4 linked regions of the Homo sapiens genome follow. The protein of the gene in region 2 interacts with the protein of the main gene of each other region in a pairwise test. Each region holds a gene or a part of one and is shown on either strand. Other genes may lie near its edges. The genes, in order: RBM45, JPH3, TAC3 and ALDH1A1.

Region 1 (7,204 bases), on a different chromosome or scaffold from region 2:
TCAGTAATAAATGGTAAATAGGGAAATACAAATAGGGAAGCTTTAAGTATATGCAAAGACACTAGAGAAAAAAAAAAGAACCTCAGGTAAGATGAAATTGGAAGTGCCATCAGAGCACAGATTTCTATATTTTAGAGGACTGAGGTGTTTCAAATCTCTGATAAAGGAGACAGTCTATGTAGAACATACGTAAAATAATTAACCTCCTCATGGTAGATTTCTCCCATAAATTTTTACCTTCATAGACTGAGTGTTCATAGGCTCTAGATAAGAAGCATTCTTGCAAAACTACAGCCAAGATTTTTTTCTTCTGTTTTCTAGGTTTCCCCCTTTCCGCCAGATAACATAGTTGGTCACAGAATAACTTTTACTTGGACAATCTTTTCTGGCTGAGGGCTGGTAAGATAATATTGTTGTCTTACAGATCCTCTGAAACTTTGTAAAAGCAAAGTACAATAGAAATATTGAAGCTGAATTAATTTAACTGGAAATGCTGAAAACAACCCAAGAGTGTTCCAGTTGAAGATGGCTCAAGCTGCAGCTGCTGAATGAAACTAGTCTGTTAGGGTGTGGTGGCTCACAACTGTAATGGGAGGATGAAACGGGAGGCTCACTTGAGTCCAGGAGCTTGAGACCTGCTTAGGCAACATAGTGAGACCCTGTCTCTAAGAAAAATAAAAAAAATAAGCTGGGCATGGTGGTGCACATCTGTAGTCCCAGCTACTCGAGAGGGAGGATGAGGCAAGAGGATTGCTTGAGTCTGGGAGGTGGAGGCTACAGTGAGCTGTGATCAAGAAGCCACTGCACTCTAGCCTGGGTGACAGAGTGAGATTCTGTCTCAAAAAAAGAAAAAGAAACAGAAACTAGACTGTCTAGCTAGGTACTACAGTGAAACAACCTTCTGGCTAAAACTGAATAGTCAAAAATGTGACAAAGAAAATAGTAAAGTTTATTTCTTTTTGGGAACAAGATCTTTAATTTCTCTGAGGCTAAAAGAGAGGGTACATTTCGGTGTTGGGCCTTTAATTTCTCTTATAGAAATTTATCAGGGGAAGGTGGTCCATCAATTTCAAATATGGGACAGTTTTTTGGGCTGCCCACAAGGGCTCTGTGGCCATGTTACACTCAAAATATAAAAATCCTCTCCACTAAGGTCATAATTGGACAGCGATAAAATTCATTAGTCTAGTACAGGGGTCAGCAAACCACAGCTCCATTTTTGGTATAGCCCATGATGTAATAATTGTTTTTACAGTTTTTAAGGACTGTAAAAACAGACAAGGTTATGTGACAGAGACTGTATGTGGCCTGCAAAGCCTAAAATATTTACTAGTCAGCCCTTTACAGAAAAAGTTTGCCAATTCCTGATCCTGTATGCTGTGGCCCTACAATTAATTTTGTTGCTGTCACTCTGACACACTTCAGAGGGTTGGAGAAGTGGGAGGAAGGGACTGTTTACTGTGTTGTTGGTAGAGTCCCAGGCTCCTTCTCTTTGGTGGATGGAGCAAGACCTCCAGAGACTGAAATATCTCTGAGCCCTTTATTTACATAAATCCATATTAATACCATTCTCAGTTTGGAAAACAATTTTTTAAAAAATTGAGAAAATATTTTTGTGCAAAGTACCAACAGAATAACATACACAGCAACTATTTACATGGGGCAGACGAAGGCTACAATTTAAGCAATTGCCAGATTCTCAGGATTGAGTCCTGATTTGAGATCACAGGGAGTAAGCTGTGACATCTTGGCTACTACTGATCAATAACAAGGACATTATTGAGGGCTTACCCTGTGTGAGGCACTGTGCTGACAGCACATATTATGTCAAATAACCCTCAAAATGATCCTTCCTGCCATGTGTCATTATCACAATGATTTGGCTCTTCTTAAGGCAGTTTACTTTGGTCTGCTTTCAAAGAAAAGTTGCAGTAACAGAAAGGGTCAAGAACCAAATGTATGCTATTAACACTTTCAGAAACAGAGCTCATTCAAAACAATTTTCCAAAATAACAAAATGTGAAGAATATGTAACAGTGACCGTTTTAAACACCTGCACTTATTCTTTCTGTACATGTATTCTTTCGCCTGGTACTAGGAAAACGTCCAACACCAGAGGTCCCTCCCCAGTTTAAAGTACTTCTGTCAAGTTGTTAACGCCTCATCTGTACCTGAGGAAAAGTAGAGTTTTTCCGTTTTTTATATATGGAAATCTGGGCATCTGAGAGAGGAAGGTCAGAAAAGTACTCAAAGTAGGCTAGGACGAGTTTGGCAGTGAACTCAAGAGCTGGTGGATTAGTGAGGGCGAGGGAGAGGGGAAGCCCAGCCACTGCTGTTCTGTCACCCGGTGGCCGCGGCTGCCGGGTCCGCTCTCGTGGGGCAAACACTCCGCATCCCGTCCCCTTCCCTGCAACCCGGCGCAGCTTCGTGGGAGGGGAGCCTCTCCTCAAAGCAGCCCCTGTCCCCAAGCCAGGTGCTGTCTGGTCAGCTGCCGGGAACGGATGTTCCACTCCTCCCTCACCCCGGCAGAGCAGCAGGTGAAGGGAGGTCCAAGAGGCCCACTCCTTCCCCCGAGGGCACCCCGACCCGGGCACCCGCACCTTGATGGGCTTGGTGTCGTTGGGGCCGAGGCACTGGCCATGCATCTCCTCCATGGCCCTGCAGGCCTGTGAGCTGCGGGCGAACTTGACGAAAGCAATGCCCTTGGACTCCTTGGTGTGCTTGTCCCGCACCACCCAGATGTCCTGGATGTCGCCAAAAGGCGAGAAGCGCTCCCTCAGCACCGACTCAGGTGTGTACTTGCTGATCACAAGGAAGATGCGGCTGTTGGGCGGTTCGTCCAGGCTGTCCACGCCCGGGCGGAAGCCCCCGCCGCTCGCAGAGCTGCCAGCTTCGTCCATGGTGCTCCACCCGAATGCAGGAGCCTCACTGCTCTTTGCTTCTGCGGTGTCTGCCACCGCTGCTGTCTCACACCCAAGCCTTTGCCGGCTCGGTGCTCCGCTTCCGGGAGAAAGAGGAGTCCGGCGCCAGGCGCTGTCCAGCCGCGCAGGATGAGGCCTTCCGGGGAGCGGCCTGCAGCGCCCCCTGGCGACGCGGGGGACCCTGACCCAGTCTAAGTCTCAAATCCTCAAATCCAGCTGAGCCTAGGCCCAAGTTATCAGTTGTGCAATCGTTCCCTGCAGGCAGAACAGCGCTGCCTAATGCACAGGCTTTCCCAACGCTGGCTTTACCCCACCCCTAAGGCCAAGGATTCTTTCCAGTGTTAAAGAAAAAATTATTCATGACACTCGTTAGAGATGGTACAGGAAGGCCGACTTTGACAAAGGGAGCCATGGAGATAGGTCCAGGGACAGCTGCAATGGGGTCTTGCAGTGGGAGAGAGAGATTGGACTGAATTTTGACTCTAATAAGGACAAATTTCTAACCAAGAAGCTTGGTGGGAGGTCAGTGGATGGAAAATTACAAAGAGGGAACATCAGTGTTAAGGAGGATTCTGGCTAAACCAACTTGACAGGATAGTTGCTGAAGGCAGGCCAGGGTGATTGATATCCATGGTAGTCAGACACCAAGAATGAGGATTTTCACTACACTGATTCAGCAGGATTCTTGCTCAAATTGGATTCTACAAGGACAGAAAGCCCAAGATCAAGCCTAGTCAAGCAGAGGACTCAAAGGAGCCTAACTAAGTTTTGGTCAAAGTGGAGAGTTGTCACCATCTTGGTCATAAGCTCAATAGATGATCAATATAGGACAGAGTTCAAACTATATAGCATTAGAGTTGGAAGGAAGCTTTGAGATCATTCAATTTCAGCGTCATTTGTTAGAGATGAGGAAACTGAGGCCTATAGCATAGCCAAAGTAATAGAGATAAAAAGTACGACTAAAACCAGAACTAACTTGGCCAGGCGCAGTGGCTCACGTCTGTGATCCCAGCACTTTGGGAGGCCGAGGCGGGCGGATCACGAGGTCAGGAGATCGAGACCATCCTGGCTAACACGGTGAAACCCCGTCTCTACCAAAAAAATACAAAAAAATTAGTTTGGCGTGGTGGCGGGCACCTGTAGTCCCAGCTACTCAGGAGGCTGAGGCAGGAGAATGGTGTGAACCCAGGAGGCACAGCTTGCAGTGAGCAGAGTTTGCACCACTGCACTCCAGCCTGGGGGATAGAGCGAGACTCCACCTCAAACAACAACAACAACAACAAAAAACCCAGAACTAACTCCATCTGTTGATTTACTCAACTTCTACAAGCAACCCTGGGGTTGGAGGGCAGTGAGGGTGGACTGCTCAGCTGTGGAACTAAGAGAAATCATAGAGTGCAAGCAAAGTGGGAAATGCCTTCTTGTTAACAAGCCTTAGAGGAGAGGTCAGAAACCCAGTAGAAATCCAGAAACAAGGCCTGGATTTAGCAGTGGCATTGGAATGAAGTGAAAGGAATAAACCCCTAAGTAGACCGAGGGCGGAGTTCTTCAAATGAACAAGTTCTGGATGCTAAGACCTAGGTTGCTATGAAGTCAACCAGATAAATACTTATTGTACTCCAACTGTGTGCCAGGCTCTATGCCAGGAGCTAGATATATAATGAGGAACAGGAAAGACATGTCCCGAGGGCTTGTTTTCCCCCACTGTGGAAATCTTACATGTAAATATATAATGCAAAGTAATATCAGATTATGTTACATGGTTTTGCTACTGAATTGTGTGAGCCTGGACAAGTTACTTAATACTTGCAGCTTCGGTTTCATTAACTGTAAAGTAGGAATAATATTACCTACTAAATAGGTAATACATATTATTTTGTGGTTGGATTAGTTAAGCTTGATAGCCGCCTAATAGCTACGCAGGAGCATGACTATCAAGTTTAATTAATTCACCCATTCACTTAATAAGTATTTTTGACTATCTACTATGTGTTAGGCACTGTGTTATACTGAAGGGATGTAGTATTGAACAAAATAATTACTCTTCTTCCCCCACAGAGTTAATCATTTAGCCTTATATAGTTATGCTCATATAAGATAATATATATGGAGTTCATAGTTTAGAGATCAAATGAGATAATATTTGTATAATGGTATAATTGAGATTAATTTTCTTGTTCCCTTTGACTATGGTATCCACTCCCCCACCACTGATATTATACAGTTGTGTGATGACTACTGAGAGTCAGGGATTGTGGGTTGTCACCCTGGATTTAGCACTAAGATTTTTATAATTTCTCCTTGTATTACATTCCATATCTGTAGTGAGGGTTCTGTTTACCCTGAGGCTGAACAACTCTAGGAAGTATCTTTTCTTGACTTTCCATTTCTCTTTTTCCTACCCACAACAATCAAGGTAAATGAAAATAATTTGATAGTGTGAGTTTTGTTGATGAGAGGAACTGCAAAGCAATATTATTTGCAAACCAGTGCCATCTAGTGGAAAATGTGTAATTTTCTTAAATTGTCCTGACTGGGCAATCTCTATTCTTTGTGAAATAAGACTACTGATTGGTGTCCTGAAAATTTTAGGCTGTTATTGAGAACAGTTAATTCTTTTCTCAAAAAAAGATAAAAGATTGCATAAAACAAAACCAGGAACGCAAATATTGGAAAATGCCAGAAAAGCAAAATTTCTTTACTATCCAATTATGTGAAATATGACATATTCAAGGAAAATTAGAAATTTACTTATAAATTAAAAAAAGTAAGTACATTTTCTTCATGACATGTATTTATTTTAAACAGATTTATTGAGATATAATTCTTCTTCTTATCTTATTTTTTCTTTTCTTTTTTTTTTTTTTTTTTAAGGGATTGGTGTCTCACTATGTTGCCTAGGGCAATCTCGAACTGGCCTTAAGTGATTCTCTTGCCTACGCCTCCTAAGTAGCTGGGATTACAGGTGAGACCCACCACACCCAGTGAGTTCTAATTCTTACATCATACAATTCACTCATTTGATGTATTCAATTAAATCGTTTTTAGTGCCTTCACAGCATTGTGCAAGCATCATCGCAATCAATTTTAGAACATTTCATCACTCAATGACCAAATTGTTATATTTCAAATCATAAAACCTTTGAACATGAATTACATGTAACTAAAACACCTAAAAATGTCTGAGGTTTAAAAGAATGATTTTTAGTTAGTCTGCTTAATAGAAGAAACCAGGTGCTGGGCATTTGCAGATTAAATTTTTTTCAAGGCTTTAGAACATGTAGCCTATAAAGCACTGTTATTAGAATGTGCACACATGTTTGTTTCACATGAAATTCAGATTTTTTTGAAACTTTTTCTCCCTCAAATCTTTTCTTTTTAAAAATGAGAGGTGATATTGTGACTAATTTTTGAAATGCCAGGAGCAAATAGTAAATTTTTGTCATTATTTTCCAAACTGAAGTACAATGAGGCTTACTTAGTTGGTGATATTAGTCTTCATATGTTACATCAATTAACTAAAAATATTTCGCCCTATTTGCAAATTTTTTATAGGTTTTAAAACTAAGACTTATTGGTGATCAATTAGTAGCTTTCAGATTGTTGTATATGAATATGATCCAGAGTTTCCATTTGACCCATCTGTAAGGCTACTGTCTACTGATAACGTAGGCAATTACTTAGTCTGACCTGTGGCAGGCACTCAAGAAATGGTAGTCTCCTTCTTGAGTTTGCATGCCTTTGAGTTTGAGAATAATATCTAACACCTGATTTTTTTTTTCACAGTATGCCTGCTCCTTTTGATTCAACTTGATGACATACATCTTTTAAATGTGTAGATCACAGGACAAAATTCATAGATACCACTTAGAATAGTTTCATTAAAGCATCTGGTGACTGTGGCTATTTAAATTAAAATTACTTAAAATTACCTAAAATTAAAATGAATTATAATGAAAATAATTAAAAATTCATTTCTTCAGTTGAATTAGCCAGTTTCCGACAGCTCAAGAGCTATCCACAGCTACTGGACAGCGGGCACGCAGAGCCAAGCACTGCACAGCAAGTACAAGGCTTTAAGCCTCTGCGAGAGGTGAGATCCCACGGGATCTGGGGGCCAATCAGCAGTGGGACCGGGTCCCGGCTTGCCATTGGCTGGCGATCACTGGTCGCGCGCGTCCGGCTGCGCTTGCAGCCCAGGGCGTGAGGTGCTCTTTCTGGATCGCCAGCCTCGAAGTTGAGGCGTGGACTCTGGCCAGGTGGCTGTTCCAGGTGACTGCTGG
Region 2 (7,034 bases):
AGAGAGCACCCTCGCTTCTTCTACCATGTGAGCACCCAGCAGGAAGGTGCTGTCCAGGACCCAGAAAGTGGGTCCTCTGCAGACACCAAATCTGCTGGCACCTTGATCTTGGACTTCCAGCCTCCGGAACTGGGGGAAAGCAATGTCTGCTATTGATGAGCCGCCCAAGCTGCGGTGCTTTGTTGCAGCCCCAACAGGCTAAGTCAGGAACCGTGAACAGGAGACCTCCCAGGGAGTCTGCTCGGAGGGGGGATTTGTCGTGGGGGAATTGGTCATTGTGCCTCAGTTTCCCCATTGTTGGGGAAGTGGTGCCCATGGCCACTGGCAGGCCCCCCCGGGGGCCAGCACACCAGGTAGGAAGAAATGCAAGCCCCAGGCTGCTGAGATGCACAGAGCCCCACATTCTGCCTTCGGGACGTCTGTCTAGTCCCTTGTCTTACAAAGGGTGGGCAGGTCCCCTGCAGGACTCAGCAGAGGGAGAGACACAGTCAGGGAGCGGCCAGAGGGGTGACGTGCCCGGCTGCCCACAGGTACAATGGCTCCTTCGTGTCACACATGGGTGTCGGCGTCATCTTTCGGCTGGGTGAGGGAACTGCCCAGCTGCCCAAGCCCTGGGTTCCCAAGTCAGAGTTGCTGGGATTACTGGGCAGGGAGGTGGTCCCGCAACCCACACCGGGGCAGTGGCAGGAAGCACAGACACACACAGCACAGCGGGCCGGCACCGCCGGGGTGGGTTGTCTGGGCTTGGACTCTTTCTGTGCACATGCTGATGTTTGTTGATAATAAGAACAGAAACATTTTCTTTTTTTTTTTTTGAGATGGAGTCTTGCTCTGTCACCCAGGCTGGAGTGCAATGGCGTGATCTCCGCTCACTGCAACTTCCGCCTCCCAGGTTCAAGCAATTCTCCTTCCTCAGCCTCCTGAGTAGCTGGGATTACAGGCACGTGCCACAACACCCGGCTAATTTTTGTAATTTTTAGTAGAGACGGAGTTTCACCATGTTGTGCAGGCTGGTCTTGAACTCCTGACCTCATGATCTGCCCGCCTCAGCCTCCCAAAGTGCTGGGATTACAGGCGTGAGCCACTGTGCCCAGCCCCTCCCCTTTTTTTTTTCCTTGAGACAGAGTCTTGCTCTATTACCCAAGCTGGAGTGCAGTGACGCGATCTCAGCTCACTGCAACCTCCACCTCCCAGATTCAAGCAATCCTCCTGCCTCAGTGTCCCGAGTAGCTGGGACCACAGATGCGTGCCATCACACCCAGCTAATTTTGTATTTTTGGCAGAGACAGGCTTTTGCCATGTTGCCCAGGCTGGTCGTGAACGCCTGAGCTCAAGCGATCTTCCTGCCTTGGCCTCCCAAAGTGCTGGGATTACAGGCGTGAGCCACCATGCCCTGCCCAGAGGTGTTTTCAAGCATGTCCTGTGCACTGGGCCTGGTTGGTTGATGCTCAGTGATGTTTATTGAATGAATGAATGAATGAACGAACAAGATCCAGAAGTCTGAGGGTAAACATGGGGTGCCAGCATCTTGTCTTAGCCCAGCCCGTTGTTGGGGGGTTGGCAGAGTACCTCAACCCAGACCCCTGTCACCTGTGCCCCCTGCCCCCCCTCACGCTCCTCCCTGTCTCCCCCAGGACCTCCCACTCTCGGGCAAAGGCCGAGGCAGCCCTCACAGCAGCTCAGAAAGCCCAGGAGGAGGCGCGGATCGCCAGGATCACTGCCAAAGAGTTCTCCCCTTCCTTCCAGCACCGGGAAAACGGTGAGTCTCGCCGGGCCTGATACTGGCATCGTGGGGAGGGGGTGCGTGGATGGCTGGGCAGTCCTGGCAGCAGATGTGTCCTCCAGAGCGGGTAGGCTTAGATGGGCTCAGCCCCAGCTGCTCCCCTGCCCGGTGTCTTCCTCTCCCGCCGAAGGTGCTTGTTTGTGCCAAGGCCTGGCCTGGCTCCCCGGGACACAGGACATGTGTCTTGGCAGGTCTCTCCCATTCCCACAGTCCTTGGGGCACCGCGTGTTGCTTGCCGGCTGTCCCTGACGGTGAATTCCCACCTGCCCAGCCTGTGCTGTCTGCTGCCCGCCCTCCCCCAGTGTTGTTCTAGAACCTTCTGGGATGATGGAACTATCTGCTGGGTCCAGCGTGGCAGCCATTAGCTGGGTGTGTCTGCGGTCCTGGCTCTTGACCTGCCTCTGATGTGAACTAACTTACCATTAAACACACCCAGTGGCTGCTGGGTTGGACAGCGTCACAAATGGCAGCTCCCGCTGTGCCCCTCGGAAAGAGCTGGAAGCTGCTGCCTGATTTAGGAACCTCGTCCTCCCTTCGAGGGGGGGATCATGGGTGATACGGCCCAGTGACAGTGGCGGGGGCGTGGAGGGTGTGGGGTGGGTGGCGGAGAGGCCGTGGCCAGCTGCCTCCCATCTCCTACCTCATCTTGGAGGAAGCTTCCTCTGCACCAGGAGGCCCCAGAGAATGGGGTTAGGAGCGCGCCCCCTCAACCCGAGCTCTGACCGGTGAGCGGTATTCGGATGAGGCTCTGCGCGCTGGAGGTCCGCACCTGACACCACAGCCCTGAACTTGCTCGCAACGCCTGCCACTCTGGCCACCAGGACAGGATGAGGAGCCCAGCCTGGGGGCTGCGGGGCTGGGCGCTCCCCTGACTGGAACGCGAGACCACATCATCTCTAGAGGTGACCGTCCGCCACCACTCCAAGACCTTGCCTTCACTGGGCGAGTGCCGGGCCCTGCAGAGCCTGCAGCTGCAGCCTGGAGGTCAGGAGGACGAGCCCCCGCACCCCCACCGCCTTGGGCAGCTTCTATTCCACTGCGTCCCCTCCACTCTCCTGGCCCCTCCAGACACACGCACCCCAAAGTGTCCAAGTGGGAGGGCAATGGGCCACGTGCCCCTGTGGCCATTGGCATCCTCCATGGTCTCGCCCTCAGGCCCTGAGTTTCCTTCTCCCTGGGGCCCCTCCTTGCCTCGCCCACGACCAGCTGCCTGGGCTGGGAGGCGGTGGGGCGCACACTTGGGGGCACACGTGTAGCGTGCACGTGCATGTGGGGAGTGGGTGCAGTGCTGCGGGATGGACGAACGGAACAGGGATGCTGGAGAGGAAGCCAGTGCCGTCGGGGGCACCTGCCAGAACCCTGGCTGGGCCACTCCACGCAGAATGCACGTAGGACGGCATGGGATTCCACGTACCAACCCTGGCCCATGGTCGCCTCAGCTCCAGCCCTGCCTGCGACTCACATTCCACTGCCTGCGGCCTGTTTTGTTTCCTCTCAGAGCCTCAGTTCCATGTGTGAAAGGAAGGGGACCAGACAGGGAACATTGAAGCCTCCATCCTGTGCCAAATCCCCCAAGAGACGCATCCACCGGAAGCTCCCAACGTGACTTATTTGGGAGGAGGGTCTGTGCAGGTGTCATTATGGAACAGACTTTGAGACAAGATCAGCCTGGATTGGGGTGAGTCCTAGATCCACGCGGCGTCCTTAGAAGAGACAGAAGAGGAGGAGACAGGGGCGGATGGAGTGATGTCAGAGATCACTGGAGACTCCGTGGCTGGAGGGTGGCTGGAGCGGAGACCCTGGAAGGAAGCAGCACTCCCGACACCTGGATCACGGCTTCTAACTTCCAGAAACACGAGTTTGCCTTTTGGGTGTTTCTACCCCCACCCCCGCGTGGTGCTTTACTGCTCCAGTCCCAAGAAATGGGTGCAGGCTCCCCCACCCTGAGAATTCCAGTTAAGACTCTGGAGTCGGAGATGCTTCCTGGAGGGCTCAGTCCTGGAGTCAGAGGAGATGCTTCCTGGAGGGCTCAGTCCTGGAGTCAGAGATACTTCCTGGAGGGCTCAGTTCTGGATTCAGAGGAGATGCTTCCCAGAGGGCTCAGTCCTGGAGTCAGAGATGCTTCCTGGAGGGCTCAGTTCTGGATTCAGAGGAGATGCTTCCCAGAGGGCTCAGTCCTGGAGTCAGAGATGCTTCCTGGAGGGCTCAATCCTGGAGTCAGAGATGTTTCCCGGAGGGCTCAGTCCTGGAGTCAGAGATGCTTCCTCGAGGGCTCAGTCCTGGAGTCAGAGATGCTTCCTGGAGGGCTCAGTCCTGGACTTGGAGATACTTCCTGGAGGGCTCAGTCCTGGATTCAGAGGAGATGCTTCCCAGAGGGCTCAGTCCTGGAGTCAGAGATGCTTCCTGGAGGGCTCAGTCCTGGATTCAGAGGAGATGCTTCCTGGAGGGCTCAGGTCCCTGCAGGAGGGGCCTTGGGCTGACCTTTTAAGTCCTGAAGCTGCCTCCTCCGACAGTTCTTGTCTTCATGATACAGATGCGGGCCCCTGTGGGGGCCGCTGTGATGGAGAGACGGGGCCGCTGCTGCCTCACTGGTGGGAGTCCAGTCCTCGAGGGTCTGGCCAAGTTGGCCTCACCTCCTGCTGCTGCACCTTGGAGCCTGGCTCACTCTGAGCACCTCGGTCCGATCTGCCACCTCTTTGGGTGGCGCCCCGGAGCCTTCTCTGAGCAGCATCTTCCCTGGAGGGGGCGTTGGGACCGTGTGTTTTTTACAAGCGCTGGGACTGGCATGAGATTTGATCCAAGCATTTCTTGTTTCCGCCTTGGATGCATTCAGGATCAGTGTTCCCAGACCAGGCACCCCGGGGCCTTCTCGGCTGCTGGGGAGGGGTGGGGCTGGGGGAAGCTGTCCAGGTCCTTCCTCAGTCGTCCTCACAGCCAGGAGCTGAGGTCACCAATGACAGATGACAGAACAGAGCCTCCAAGAGGGGAACAGGGTTGCCAGAGCGCTCAGGCAGGATGTGGTGGAATCAGGATTTAAAACGAGGCTCTGAAGCCTGGGCCATGCCGGCTTCTAGAGAAGCAAACCATCCAGCGCTTCGGCTGCAGAGAGTGGCTGGCGCCAGCCTCTTGCTGCCTGTCTGGGAGGTCCCTGGCAGCCTCCCAGCCCGAGAACTCTGACCGTCAGGGTTCTGCCCAAGGCCACGTGAAGGCAGGACCATGAAGGAGCCTGGCCATGCGGTGTCCAGTGCCCAGGCCACTTCCGGTGCCATCCGCCCCCGCCCCAGAGGCAGGAGGACTGAGCGTCGGAGGCTGCAGGACGCAGGTGGCTTGAAGGCACAGGAAGAAGCTGCAGGGGCTTCACGAGGACCCGCCCTGCATCCTCACCACGAGGCTTCTAGGAACGTTACCTGCTCAGCAGCTCATTCTAGCTGAGGGTGCCCTCCTGCTGGTGGTGCTGGGAGTCGGGGCCCCTCTAGCGTGGGGTCTCCTGGGCCAGCCAGGCCTGATCTCGGCAGCAGTGGGTGGACGACCTGGTGGGAAAGGCCGGGGCGCCATCGGGGGATGGGGGGGGCCTTGATCCCAGCCTGCTAGGTCCATAGCGTCTAAGGCACAGGAATGCCAGCCCCTTGGAAGTCCCATCCTGGCCAAGGAGGAGGTACGATGTGGGTGATCCGTGGGCATGATTGGGGGCCTCTGATGGGGCCAGGGCTGCCCTCCACACAGGACCCTCACGGGGAGAGAGGTGGTGGGGCTGGGCGTCAGGTGGGTACGTGGATGTCAGCACAGTTCTACACAGACCTTCTCTGGCCCATTCCCTGCTCTGCTCGGGGGACACCCAACCAGCCCAGCCCTGTTTCTGGGGAGTGACCACAGAGAAGCAGTCATTGAGACCTCAGAGTGGCCCACCCACACCCCCGTGTGACAGGAACTCAGACTTGGGAGGGCTGGCCACCCACCCAGAGCTACCCAGCTGTGCCCCAAGCCCCAGGCCAGGGCCATGGCCTCGCTCTGCTCAGCACTGCCTCTTAGACCAGCAAGGAGGAGGACACAGCAGCCCAGCCTGGTGGCGTCGCAGCGTGCCCCGAATCTGCTTGCTAACGTCTCTTTACAAACGGAGGGACTATCTGGTGCCACACCGAGGGTAGCCATGTCTCCCAGACCTTCTCCTGCCAAAAGGTCAGACTGGGGTACAGGCGTCTCCCAGACCTTCTCCTGCCAAAAGGTCAGACTGGGGTACAGGCCAGGAGAATGTCCGAGCGTGAGAGACTCTAAGATGGGCAGTGGCTCTTGGTGTCCGAGCTGGTCTCATGAGGTGGCCGCCCCGGGTAGAGCTCTGAGACCTCCGTCCTCAGAGGGAAGACTCCCCAAATTCCCACAGAGCTCTGCACCATTTTGGCTCGGGCAGGACGGGGATGCTGGGGGCGGGGGTCCCACTGTTCTGTGCTGAGCCTAGGACGCTACTTGAGATGAACGTGTAACTGTTCCCCGGAGGGTAAGAAGCGCCGCGTTCTTGGGTTTCTCCTAATGGAATAAAGTCGGGCATGGCTCCCGTGTCCCTGCGTTGGCAGGAAATGAGATCCCAGTCAATGTTCTTGGTTCTCACCTCCTGCTGGGGGCTCACGGAGCTCCGGAGAAGTCTCGGGGCTAGTCCTACAATGCTGCCCCTCCCTATCCAGGCCTCCGGGTGGGGGCTGATGGGGACTGAGCCACCGGCAGACGACAGGGACTCTGCTGGCTGCAGAGCTGGCCCCTGGGTCCTGTGGTGACCTCCCCTTCCGGGGAGCCCCGCCCTAGGACTTGAAGCCCCAGCAGCCTCGAAAGGTGGGGAGGGAAGTCGGCTCCTGGGCTCTCACGCTGGCCCCGGCACTGGCTGTTTCTCAGCAAGACTGTCCCAGCACCCTGAGACACAGTCCCAGGCGGGTAGGGGTGTTGGCGGCCTTGCTGTGACAGCTCGGCCTCCCCAGACAGGTGGTCAGCTAGGGTGAGGGGCTTCCTCTTACCCTCAGGACAGGCGAGTCAGGGTTGGTGGGACCTGAGTCCACACCCCAGCGTCCTCACGCACTTTCCGAGCCTTGGGTCTCCCTTGTAGCCTGGGAGCTGCTGTCCGCCCTTCCTGTGGTGCCTGGGCCTAGCCAGTCTCCCTCCAAGTGTCTGTGGGGTGGGGACCACGGGGGTCCCACAGAGGGCTTTGGGAGCCACGGTCCCCACTCCCCTCCCTTGCCTGCAGCCTTTCGGTGAGTGGGAAGCGCCT
Region 3 (4,064 bases), on a different chromosome or scaffold from region 2:
GCGTGATCTCGGCTCACTGCAACCCCTGCCTCCTGGGTTCAAACGATTCTCCTGCCTCAGCCTCCCAAGTAGCTGGAATTACAGGCATGCGCCACCATGCCTGGCTAATTTTTGTATTTTTAGTAGAGAAGGGGTTTCACCATGTTGGTCAGGCTGGTCTCGACCTCCTGACCTCGTGATCCACCCGCCTCGGCCTCCCAAAGTGCTGGGATTACAGGCGTGAGCCACCGGGCCCGGCCTGTTTTTTCTTTATCTAAAACTGGTCTGTAAAAATCTTTGTGTGTTAGAAACCATCTTCCAAATTCGTGTATTTATTTTAATCACTAAATAAATCTGATACTCATCGTGCAAAGCACTGTGTAAGGCACTGTTCAGGAAATAGATATATACAAAAAGATATGTAAAGTTATTTACATTTAAATATGAAGTGTGTGTATCATAAGTATGTGTGTATTTACCATGTAGCTGGAGGAGTCAAGGAACAGAAAAACCCACCAACCAAACAAGTAAACACACACACCACATCATTCATATGCAAAAATCCTTTATTGTTGAGGAATAGAGAGAGACATTATATTTTTAATGTAGGACACTACAGGAACTCTAGGGTATTCTACAGTCAATGCCCATTGGGGTTGGGGATATTCACTATGCAGTTTCCACACCAGGGTCAGGTAGAAAAGATGGAGAAGGAGTCAAAGCACAAGAATGTTACAAGAACAGGGAAGAGAAAGGGTAACAGGAGCGTGCGCACCTGGGGATTGGGACAGGGAAAGAGGTCTTCCTAATGCAGTCCAGGAGTCCGGAAGTGGAGTACTGAGGACAAAAAACAAAACAAAACAAAAAAAAACACTGAAATCACATCTTATATCCTGTAAAAAAGTCCCACTGAAAACCTGCTGTGGCAGCAGGAGAGAAGGGGAGAGGCGTCTGTGAGAGAGGAAAGAACAAGTCTTGACCCTCAGCCTGCCCTCCAGGCTTTGGGCCTGAGGATGGAACTCTCCTAGCCGCAGGTACTTGCACCTTCCCAGCTGCCATATTTACATTACTCTACACACCTGTGTGCATGGCCAGTGGGGCCCATGTGGACCAAAGATGTAGGAACCAAGTTCATGCCATCCTAGCACCACCATGAGCCAGACACACACACAGCCCTGCCCAAGGTGCCCTACTATGAATGCTCCCCCTGCCTTATCCAGTTCCTCCTCTTCCCAGAAACCTCCCAGAGGAAGCACAGGCCCAGGGATTACTTACAGTTTCACATGAATGAAATCAGATGACACAATGATCTGTGTTGATCCATCTCATCTAATCTTTAAATGCCAGCTCCCAGAAACCTTATGTCCTATTCTGCCTGACACCTAACAGGTTGGGAATGCTCCCTCAATGGTAAGATTATGAAAGCTGCAATTATGGGTCCCTCTGAAAGAGCCTGGATGCACAAACAAGCATTAAAAGTAGATTTCCACAATGCACTTGTTTTTGCCATTTGTATAAAATACTATAGCAAAATTGCACTGTAATTATCTTTATGGCCAGTGCATAACGCTGGAGCAGAGTATGTCATCCAGATATAGCTGCTCGTATAATTATCTGGCCGTCGGCAGGACTGAAATAACCATCTAATGAGAGCAAAATGATACAGTAACTACCATGTAATCAGCAAGTTACAGTTATTATAGCTCTTTGTGCCCTCTCACCCAACACTAAATGGGGGGCCAGACTCAGTCTCTGGTCCCAGGAATTCATGCACAGGCAGCATCATCAAGCACCAGCTCCTTGGGTCTTGGGCGTGCCACCTTGAGACCAGTGAGTATGGGTAACAGGGACACAGAGAGAAAAGCAGGAGGCTCTCCATGATTACGAGCCTTCCCAATCTCTCTCCCTCTCCTTTTCACTCCCTCCACCCCAATTCTTTGGAAGCTAGTGAAAAGAAAGCCATTGGTGGAGCTGCTCTTGCTGTGTGTGGGAAGACAGTGTCAAGGCGGAAGGTTCGTGTTTTGACTAGACACTTCCCTGGGGGACTCTTACACTCGCATACCAAGTGAGGAATTTGTCAGCCCACTCAGGCCTGGGGTCCAGACAGAGCCAGTCAGGGGAAACATTAGGACATCCCCCATACCTCCCAAACTGGGACAATTATCATAAAATTGGCACACAGCACTGTGCACCCGGCACTGTTCTGAACACTTTACCTATACTCAATCCTCAAAACCACAACCCTGTGAGATACTATTATCACTTTCATTTTTCAGATGAGGAAACTGAAGCACAGGAGGATATGTACCTTGGCCAAAAAGATACAGATAGAGTGGCAGATCCAGGATTCACATTCAGGCCATTGTTCTTATTCATTATGCTAAAGAGAGATTCAGATATGGTTTCCTGCTAATCCCCATTAGATTTCAGAGTTCCTTGCATTTCTTCCTGAATCATCCTTGTGTATGACTACCTTCTGGGCCCCGTAACCCAGGATTCTGAGTGATTTGAAAGGCTCAGCCTGCCTGGGAGGCAAATGCTTGCCTGTGAATTGGTTGTGGTATTTGTAATTATCAGATAATAATTTCTCCATCTTTTTGCATAGATTACAAAAGAATGAAGTCCAAACAACAGAAATTGCCCATCGGGGAAGCCCCTCTCTCCTCATCTCCCAACACTCACTCCTGCTCAATAGTCAGCTGCCGTCCATGATCCAGAGGAAAGAGATGAAAGACGGGGGATGTGTACAAACACACGTGCCTCTAAGTGTCTTTGTGTTTGGCCGACAGTGTGCTGGGCATTGGCAGTGTATTTCAGGGCAAATCTATGAGCTTTAATACCTGTAGCATGGGAGGAAATGCACAGCTGGCAACCCCCACAGCCCCCTCCCCAGTCCCCTCTCCCCTCTCTAATGAACAATCCTTACCCTATTCTGCTCTCGGGGGATACTTGAGGATGCCAAAGCTGGGGACGTTCTCTTGATTCACATCCGTAGGAGAGTCTAGGGTAAAGCGAACAGTGTAAGTAAGAGGGATCTTTCTGAATGTGAACTACACCCTGATCCAACAGCAAAGGGCTGGCTATGACGGGCAGTGTTCAAAGACAGAGTTGGGAGACTGGGGTGGAAGCAGAGTCTCCCTATCCTTCCTCCCAGCTGCAACAGGACTACCTTATAAAGGTCTCTGCTCCTCTGTTCCCAGGGAAGACTTTCCTGTGGATCCAAGCTGATTGGGATGAAGGGGCCGAGGAACCCTCACTGAAGGTAAGAAAGGTCCTGTCTTTCCCTCTGGTGACAAATATGAGGCACGTGACTTCTGTCATACTCTGCCAGTACCCTAAGCCCTTCCACTGTACCTCCACACACTCCTACCTGGCTGGACGCTCCTCTTGCCCATAAGTCCCACAAAGAAGTCATGCATGTCACCTGCAGAAAAGGGCCAACATTGTCAGCAGTGATGATGAGAAAGTGAAGCATCTCCCCAGACATGGGTCAACACTTCTGAGACTGGGTTTCTGGTCTCTGTTCCTTTTTCTTGTCAAAGCATGACTCCTCACAGTTAGCAAGTGCCTCCCCTAAACCCACTCTCTCTGCTCACCTTTCCTTCCTCCACATTTCAAGAATTTTCTGCTCTAGCAGGTGCCTGATTTGGAATTTTCAGGGCCACGAAGAGATCCCCTTGTTTTCCAAGGACCAGCCAGCAGAGGGAGAGCCCACCATGCCCCTCACACCAGCTTCCTCCTAGTTCTGGATGGCCTCTCCCTTTCAGGAAAGGTTGGCTGAGCAGTGGGAGCTGGCATATTGTTTGTACCAGGTGAGAAGGGGCTGGACAAAATGGCCCCTGGGCCCAATGCCCCACAGAGCTCTGGGCAAGTGGCAAGAGATAGGGAGGGAGAAGAGGGTACTTACGTTTCTCGGGAGATGTTGATTCCTTAGGATCTGTGAAACCAAGAACAGATGTCTAAATGGGGAGTGAAGTTGGAAAGTGATGAGAGCGGGGTTCAGATCACAACCCTCACCGATTCACTAAGCTATCCCCCATCTCTCTCCCATCTGAAAGGATCTCCCAGGCCTCTTATCTTCAGAA
Region 4 (7,244 bases), on a different chromosome or scaffold from region 2:
AAGACGTGAGGCATACTTGTAGGAAACAGGTCTAGGAAAGGTTGGGTAAAAGGGAATATTCTGGAAAAACTGGAAAGGATTCAGAAAAATAGGACTAGGATCACTAACGTTAAATCATTTCCCATGTCCAGGCATTATTTCAAGGGCTTTGTACGCATTAAGTTCGTTTAATACTTTCATCGACCTTAGAAAATACGTGCCTTTATCATCCCCATTTTAAACATAAGAAAACCGAGGCAGAGAGAAGTAATGTAGCTTGCCCAATGATCACATAACTTTCAAAGAATCTCTTCATTTAAAGGCTCAATAAAATGGAAAATGTGGGGTTCATTTAGAGTTGGAAAGAGGAGTAATGAGGATAAGGATGGGATATGAGTTCATATTAGTGAATTTATAGCGATGTTTTTGAGGTTTTAAATTCCAAAAGCTTTTGTATAATTTTAGAAAGCATTTCTTAAACTCTGATCTCTCTTTAATCTACCCCAACAAAGAAATAATCAGACTGTACTAGAAAATAAGTCATAAAAACATATGCATCAATAAATTCTTTTGTTTGGGTGAAAAGCAGTCCCAAGCTTGAGAGTATGTAGCTTTTCTATCGTAGTTGTAATATTTTTTTTTTTACTCAACCCTGTCTGTTCTCTCCAACTTGTCCTAACAACCAATATACTTCTAGCTATAATAATAATAAAAAAGGACATTAGAATAGTAACAGAAAAATAACACAAGACTTTAGGGGCTGGTAATAGAAGATAATTCCTCAGACACTATAAACTCCTTGCTTACTTGGTTTGTAACCAGGGAACTTTTTATAGTTAATAACCATCATTTTTTTTTTTAACTCCTCTTGCAAGAGCAAATTCAATCCAATTCTTCACTGGGACATAGTAAACAAAAAATGCGAAGGCATTTGAAAAAGTTCACCCATTTAGATTTAATTACATACATAACTGGCGTCCTCCCAAGTGTGAAAACGCTGTAACCAATAAATTAAACAATAAAATGCTATCTGAGCAGAACAGATTTATATAGAAGATGCACGAGAAATCAAAATTCACTGACTTGTTTGGAGTATTTTTACCCAGAAAAGTTCTTAAACACAGAGCAAAACGCCTGCTCTTTGAGTCTTGCCTTCTTTTGGACACTTAGGTCAGTCACTTTCCCTAGAGGGGAGTTGTTGCACAGTGACTTCGAAGTGAATAGGTTTCAATCTCAAAATCATCTCTCTGTGTTAAGGGTTCATTAGGTCTGTGCTTGTATGTTAGATTTTTAGGACCATCTCATTTGTCTAGTACCGCTTCTTACATGCTTAGTTAATGACTACTAAGTGAAGCTTAATTTAGCAGGAAGGTTATTTACATTAGAGCTTCCTTGAAATACACACACAAGGAAGACTTTGCAAACTTCTGCAAAGCCAAAGGAGTGGGGAGACAGGGGCATCCAGACTACCAAAATATCTTCCTAGGTAGTATTATTAAAAAAAAAATCCCATTAATAATAGTAATACAATAATCTGAGCATTGTCGACAATTTTGAGCTTCATGAAATGTATTTTTAAATGTACCCACTTTCAATTGAAATTTCTTGTGAATGACAAACTTGGAATAAGAAAATGAGGGAGACTGGACTCTTGCAACCTTTTGGACATACCTTTGCCAAATGTAAATTGTTTGACGGTATGGATTTACTGCATTTTTCATGCTACCATTTGTAGTAAAACTAAATGGAAAAAATCTTTCCTCTTTAACAAAACCTCGTGATAACAATACCTTAAAATACACTTCATAGCTGCTGGTCAACCATGTTAAAGGCACAATCTGATCTCTGCTGCTACTTTCCTGAGGAAAAGAGCCAATCAGCTGAGCAACTTCCTCATTTGTTGTGCTTTATGAAAATGAAAATGCAACAGACCTTGGGATTTCAAAGCCATCCATGGTTACAAGTGAGGAAATAAATATATAACAGTGGGGACTTTTACTTTATCATTAAATTATAATGCCCTTTGTTTTTCTGTTGGCTAATTCAGACAGCAAAATGGCTCTCTCTTGATTTGCAAGAGTTAATTTCTTACCATACTTTCTGCATCACACCATAAAGATAACTTCAAGTAATTTTGGTTAGATTGTGTTTTATTCATTTGTTTGTTTTGGAGTTCTAGGATCTGACAGGAAAGCAGTGTGAAACAGGCAAAGTTCAGAGTTACTCTCAGAACGACTCAAGCAGGATCCATTTCCTAGTTCCCCCCAGCTGCGGATTTTAAAGTCTGGATCTAGCTCCTGCTCTTGTTTCTCTAAATATTTATCAGTTAACAATTACACATCTGCTCCAATGGCAACAAACTTGGCTGAAGAAATAATGCTTTTCTTCCTCCCACCAAAATATGCAAAATAATGCAAGTCCATCTGAAGATTTTCGAATCCAATTATCAGACTTAAGTCCCCCTATTTTAACACTCATTTTATTAAACATATTGGAAAGTTATGTTATTTCAGTATGCTCTCTTTCTCCTTGTTTGCTTTCTATTGTTCCTACTCGTTTGGTTCTTTCCAGTAAGCTTCTCTAGTGAGTATTTTGCTCTCTTATCATACATGCCGGCTATAGTGAAGTTAATAGAAGTGCTTAGTAAAGTCCTCTGAATCCTGGTATAAGAATCCTTTCACACAGAAGAGAATTCCTTTCGCTTGGAAATATTTTAAGAAATAAATTTATGAAAGATTGTCTGATATGATTTAGATCATATTTGATCAGGACACTAAACTGAGACCTGCATTTTGCATGCCTTTTATTTTTATATTTGCAAAGGGCTCTTTACACAAGTTTACTTAAATTGACCTTTAATGCTTTACATAAATGCAGTTTTTGCAAACCCGAGTCAAAGCAGAAAATAGAAGTTTTACTCACCTTAGTATATTGAATCTTCAAATCGGTGAGTAGGACAGGTAAGTCTGGCGTGCCTGAGGATGACATTTCTGATTCGGCTCCTGGAACACAGGTGACTGGCTCAGCAATTTGGTTCTGATAGAGCACTTGGCTTTATTTGTTCCTTTTTTATCTGCACGGGCTAAAGTTTATTTGCATACTCGGATACGATTGGATGAACAAACTCAGAGCAAAAAAAGAAAACGACACTACTTATTTGTAACACCTAGGGCAGGAAGCCTTTGACTTTAAACTTAAATCCTTAAGAAACCAGTGCTCCAGCATCGAATTTGTACCTGGAGACAGTGCACTATTTGCAGATGAATTAATTTACAAAGCCGAAACCTGTGATAAGTGTATGCAGCAGCTGCTCTGGCCACTAAGGCCAGTTATTATTTTTTTGACTTCTCATGCTTTTTAATGCTACTATGTAACTTTCTGTTCTCTGACAGACTTGGAATCAGAGAATTTGAGGATTGAAAAGAGTCTAAAAGGGCACTTGTTCTCAGTAGAAGCTGGCCAGGTGTCTTCAGGACAAGGCTTTCAGGAAATCAGTCCATCTCCCAGAAAATCAAGGTGCTGTTTGGGGAAGAAAGGCCCTTTATCTACACCCTACCCTAAGTTAGTTTTAAAATATCGTATCAGTCTTGTGTATTTTCAGTGCTGGGTAAGTAGACCTACTGTGATCTCAGAAGCCCTAAATTATCTTTATTTTCTATATGTGAACAGAAAAGCCAGCAGGACTTTTAGGGAATTCGGAACACACTGTCACACACAATCACCACAATTAGAAATATGGCAATATCATCTATTAATACTCATTTAAAATGAAAGTAATCCTGGTTTTGGAAGTTGTCTGTATTTATCAACATAGGCAGTGTACAAAGACTAAATTTAAGCAGGGCTTCCAAACAATTCAAGTTCTTAAATTAATATTTAGCTGAAGGACAATTTTTTAAACAGTGTTACTCCCATTTTAAGTACAATACTTTATTGTATTGTAGCTCTAGCAAACGTTACAATAGGAACAAGATAAAATACTCTGGATGCTCTGATTGTGGAGAATCAACCAATTTTTTTTTTTCTAGTGAAACTTGCCAATTCCCCTGAATATGGGACTTACATAGGGAAACTAAAAATTTCTGAATTGTTTGCCCAAATCAGGTGCAGCACTTGTTTCCCTTTCTACCCTCATTTCATATCCCCATTTTAGAGACATACAGAGGGTGAGTAGCTTACTTATGGTCACAGATCTATTAGTGCAGGACCAGAATTTCATTTCAGGCCAGTCTGACTCCCAAACCTGGACTCTTATTTCTGTTTACTATTTCTACCCTATTCTCCACAAGAGAACTCCTACATGGGTTCAAGCATCAACTGCTTTGGTTTTCTCAGTGAATAGTCACCCTTACAGGCATTTAAACATAACTTTTTATTCATCTAAGACAAGAATTTGCAAAACTTTTTCTGTAAATATTTTCAGCCTCTGGGCTGGATGGTTTCTGATATAATTTACTTGACTCTATTTAAAAGAAACTGTAGATGATAGGTAAATTAATGGGTGTAGTTGTTTTCCTATAGAACTTTATTTAAAAAGACAGAAGGCAGGCCAGATTTGGTGCACGGGCCAACTCCCTAGATTCTAAGGCAATATCATTCCCAATGCCTTTGACTCCCCCGTGTCTTATGTTTGATGACCAGATAGAAACTTCTGTGTTCTTTCAACATTTCTCTGTTTCTTTCTTTTTGGAAAGTCTAATTGTTTTCTCTCTCAAAAATGTGTTTTGAGTTAAATGCACAATTACACAACAGCTGTTACATAACTTGAGAGTGGCGCTCTGGCCATGCCCAAACAGCTGTGTTTTGCTGCTTTCTTCTCCCAGAGTCACAGTTGTTTGTGGATTCAAATACTGGTTTATTTGATGTCCAGGCGATGAAAGCTCAAGGCTTCATAACATACTTGGCTTGTCATCTCACTTCTTATATGATCATTCTCAATTGTATTTTATTGGATAATTATGTAAGAACAGTCCCTTTATACCAGGCATTCCTGAATGTAGGCAAAAGGAGTTGCTTTGGAGACAGGTTACCACACCTGCCCATTTAATTTCAGCAAATATTTACTAAGTATCATTTATGCATCCATAATTCTTTAGCCCTAACCTCACTTAAGCAGATCTTTTCTGCCTAGAAACCACAGGGCCTGAGACCTATATTTTTGAGGTAAACATCATCCTGCCCTGAGAGCTTATTTTGTAGAATAGCATATTTCTGGGAATTGCTGCATATGAGGAAAAGATTTCATCAGACTACTTCTATTCCTTACAGAGGAAATAATGGCTTTTGTGAGAACCTAGGGACCAAGGTTGCACATTTTAGAACTGGACCCAGGATTGTACGTTTTTATGGTATGCCAGGACTATGCAGCAGAGGAGGAGCTGTCCCTTTAACTTGAGAGTAATCGACAAATGATGTTTCATCTTCTTTTTCCTCCTTATGAACAAACTAAATCACACACACACACACACACAGGCACACACACATATGGAGAGAGAAGCAAGAAACATAAGAGGATAGTTTATTCATCTCTTGAATTTGACTTCTCCAGCCATTTGTGAAAGCTTTCATTATACCAAGAAACATATAGATTATGACTTCAACCATTCTTGAAACTACTCTTTCATTTTACAACAAACATCTCCAGAACTCCGTCCAATCCTCAGTTCCTGAAAAGATAAAAGGAACCTAATCTGCCACCCAGGACTTAAAATTTTTAAAAAAATGTTGAAAAAAGTCATATGATGAATTAAAAATAGCTTCTGCAATGGACTGAATTTTTTTTGTCCAGTCACAATGGATATGTTGAAATCCTAACCCCCCATGTGATGGTATTAGGAGATGGAGCCTTTGGGAGGTGTATTAGTCCATTCCCATGCTACTAATAAAGACATACTTGAGACTGGGTAATTTATAAAGGAAAGAGGTTTAATTGACTCACAGTTCAGCATGGCTGGGGAGGCCTTAGGAAACTTACAATCACAGTGGAAGGGGAAGCAAACACGTCCTTCTTCACATGGTGGCAGCAAGGAGAAGTGCTCAGCAAAAGGGGGAAAACCCCCTTATAAAACCATCAGATCTCATGAGAATTCACTTATTATCATGAGAACAGGATGACGGTAACCCCCCTCCATGATTAAAGTACATCCCACCGGATCCCTCCCATGACATGTGGGGATTATGGGAACTACAATTCAAGGTGAGATTTGGGTGGGAACACAGAGCCAAATCATATTAGGAGGTAATGAGGTTATGAGGGTAGGACCCTCATGAATGGATCAGTGCTTTTATAAAAGGGACTCCAGAGAGATCTCTCGCTGTTTCTGCCATGTGTGGATGCAATGAGACATTGGCAATCTGTAACCCAAAAGAGGGCTCTCACCAGAACCCAACTATGTTGGCACCCTAATTTCAGACTTCAAGCTTCCAGAACTGTGAGAAATTAATTTTTGTTATAGCAGCCTGAATGAACTAAGACAGTTTCTTTTCATATTTCCTGATTTCAAGATGCTGGAACCATTTATTGAAGATGAACCTCTCCTACTCCAGTTACATGACCACTCCCCTAACTATTCTCTGTTGCCTTAGCATGTCTGCCTGTTGGTAAACCTAGCAAGAAATCTATCCCTATGCTTTTGATTACTACATTTTTATCAGATACCACATTGCTCTTATGCTTATTTGAGTTTTAATAATTTGGGAAAAGTGGATCTTGTATGTAGTGAGAGAGTCTGTACTTAGTTGACAAGTTGATGTTAAAAATGGAAGTGGAAGGCAGAATTCAAGTATATGAACATATGTATTTGTTGACTAATTTCTGTTCACATGCCATTCTTCTTCAATTGGAAAAATTTCCTCACCTCTGATTTCTCCTGCTCTTTACATATCTTTTCATTGTTCTTCTCTTTGGCTTGTGTTACTGAGATAGGATAGATGCCCCTCTAATCTGGTCTAACCAGGACACTAACTGATTAGTAAGGTCACTAAAAGAAACAGTACATTAAAGCCTCTGTAAGATAATTATTTGAGTTTAAATAGGTTTTTGCTAAACCTTATGGGTTGAGGCCATTTCTTGGAACTGGATTTGCTGCTTGGAATTTGAAATAATCTTGCATAAATAGTACTCATAGTGTTTTGTCTAGTTTCCAGTTTGCTTCCTTAATGTGTAGAAAGAAAGACATGAAAGACATCAATGAGTCAATCAAAATGTAGACTACTTTGAGATTTCCACAATTTTTTCTTTTTTTTTTTTTTATAATTCTCATGCA

The links.
Region 1: the proteins of JPH3 (region 2) and RBM45 interact in binary tests that used the Homo sapiens proteins (3 or more experiments, as listed by UniProt).
Region 3: the proteins of JPH3 (region 2) and TAC3 interact in binary tests that used the Homo sapiens proteins (3 or more experiments, as listed by UniProt).
Region 4: the proteins of JPH3 (region 2) and ALDH1A1 interact in binary tests that used the Homo sapiens proteins (3 or more experiments, as listed by UniProt).

Annotation. Positions count from the first base shown.
Region 1 is NC_000002.12:178,108,243-178,115,446, reverse strand, and holds the start of RBM45 (RNA-binding protein 45), read right to left. Parts: upstream 3,011-7,204; 5' UTR 2,901-3,010; coding exon 2,601-2,900; coding exon of another isoform or gene 2,172-2,600; intron 1-2,171. UniProt on the Homo sapiens protein: RNA-binding protein with binding specificity for poly(C). May play an important role in neural development.
Region 2 is NC_000016.10:87,682,508-87,689,541, forward strand, and holds part of JPH3 (junctophilin-3), read left to right. Parts: intron 1-1,634; coding exon 1,635-1,759; intron 1,760-7,034. UniProt on the Homo sapiens protein: Junctophilins contribute to the formation of junctional membrane complexes (JMCs) which link the plasma membrane with the endoplasmic or sarcoplasmic reticulum in excitable cells.
Region 3 is NC_000012.12:57,009,473-57,013,536, forward strand, and holds the end of TAC3 (tachykinin-3 isoform 1 preproprotein), read right to left. Parts: intron 3,917-4,064; coding exon 3,887-3,916; intron 3,404-3,886; coding exon 3,350-3,403; intron 3,266-3,349; exon of another isoform or gene 3,149-3,265; intron 2,981-3,148; coding exon 2,907-2,980; 3' UTR 2,906-2,906; intron 2,820-2,905; exon of another isoform or gene 2,662-2,819; intron 817-2,661; 3' UTR 528-816; downstream 1-527. UniProt on the Homo sapiens protein: Tachykinins are active peptides which excite neurons, evoke behavioral responses, are potent vasodilators and secretagogues, and contract (directly or indirectly) many smooth muscles. Is a critical central regulator of gonadal function.
Region 4 is NC_000009.12:72,950,034-72,957,277, forward strand, and holds the start of ALDH1A1 (aldehyde dehydrogenase 1A1), read right to left. Parts: upstream 3,021-7,244; 5' UTR 2,968-3,020; coding exon 2,902-2,967; intron 1-2,901. UniProt on the Homo sapiens protein: Cytosolic dehydrogenase that catalyzes the irreversible oxidation of a wide range of aldehydes to their corresponding carboxylic acid.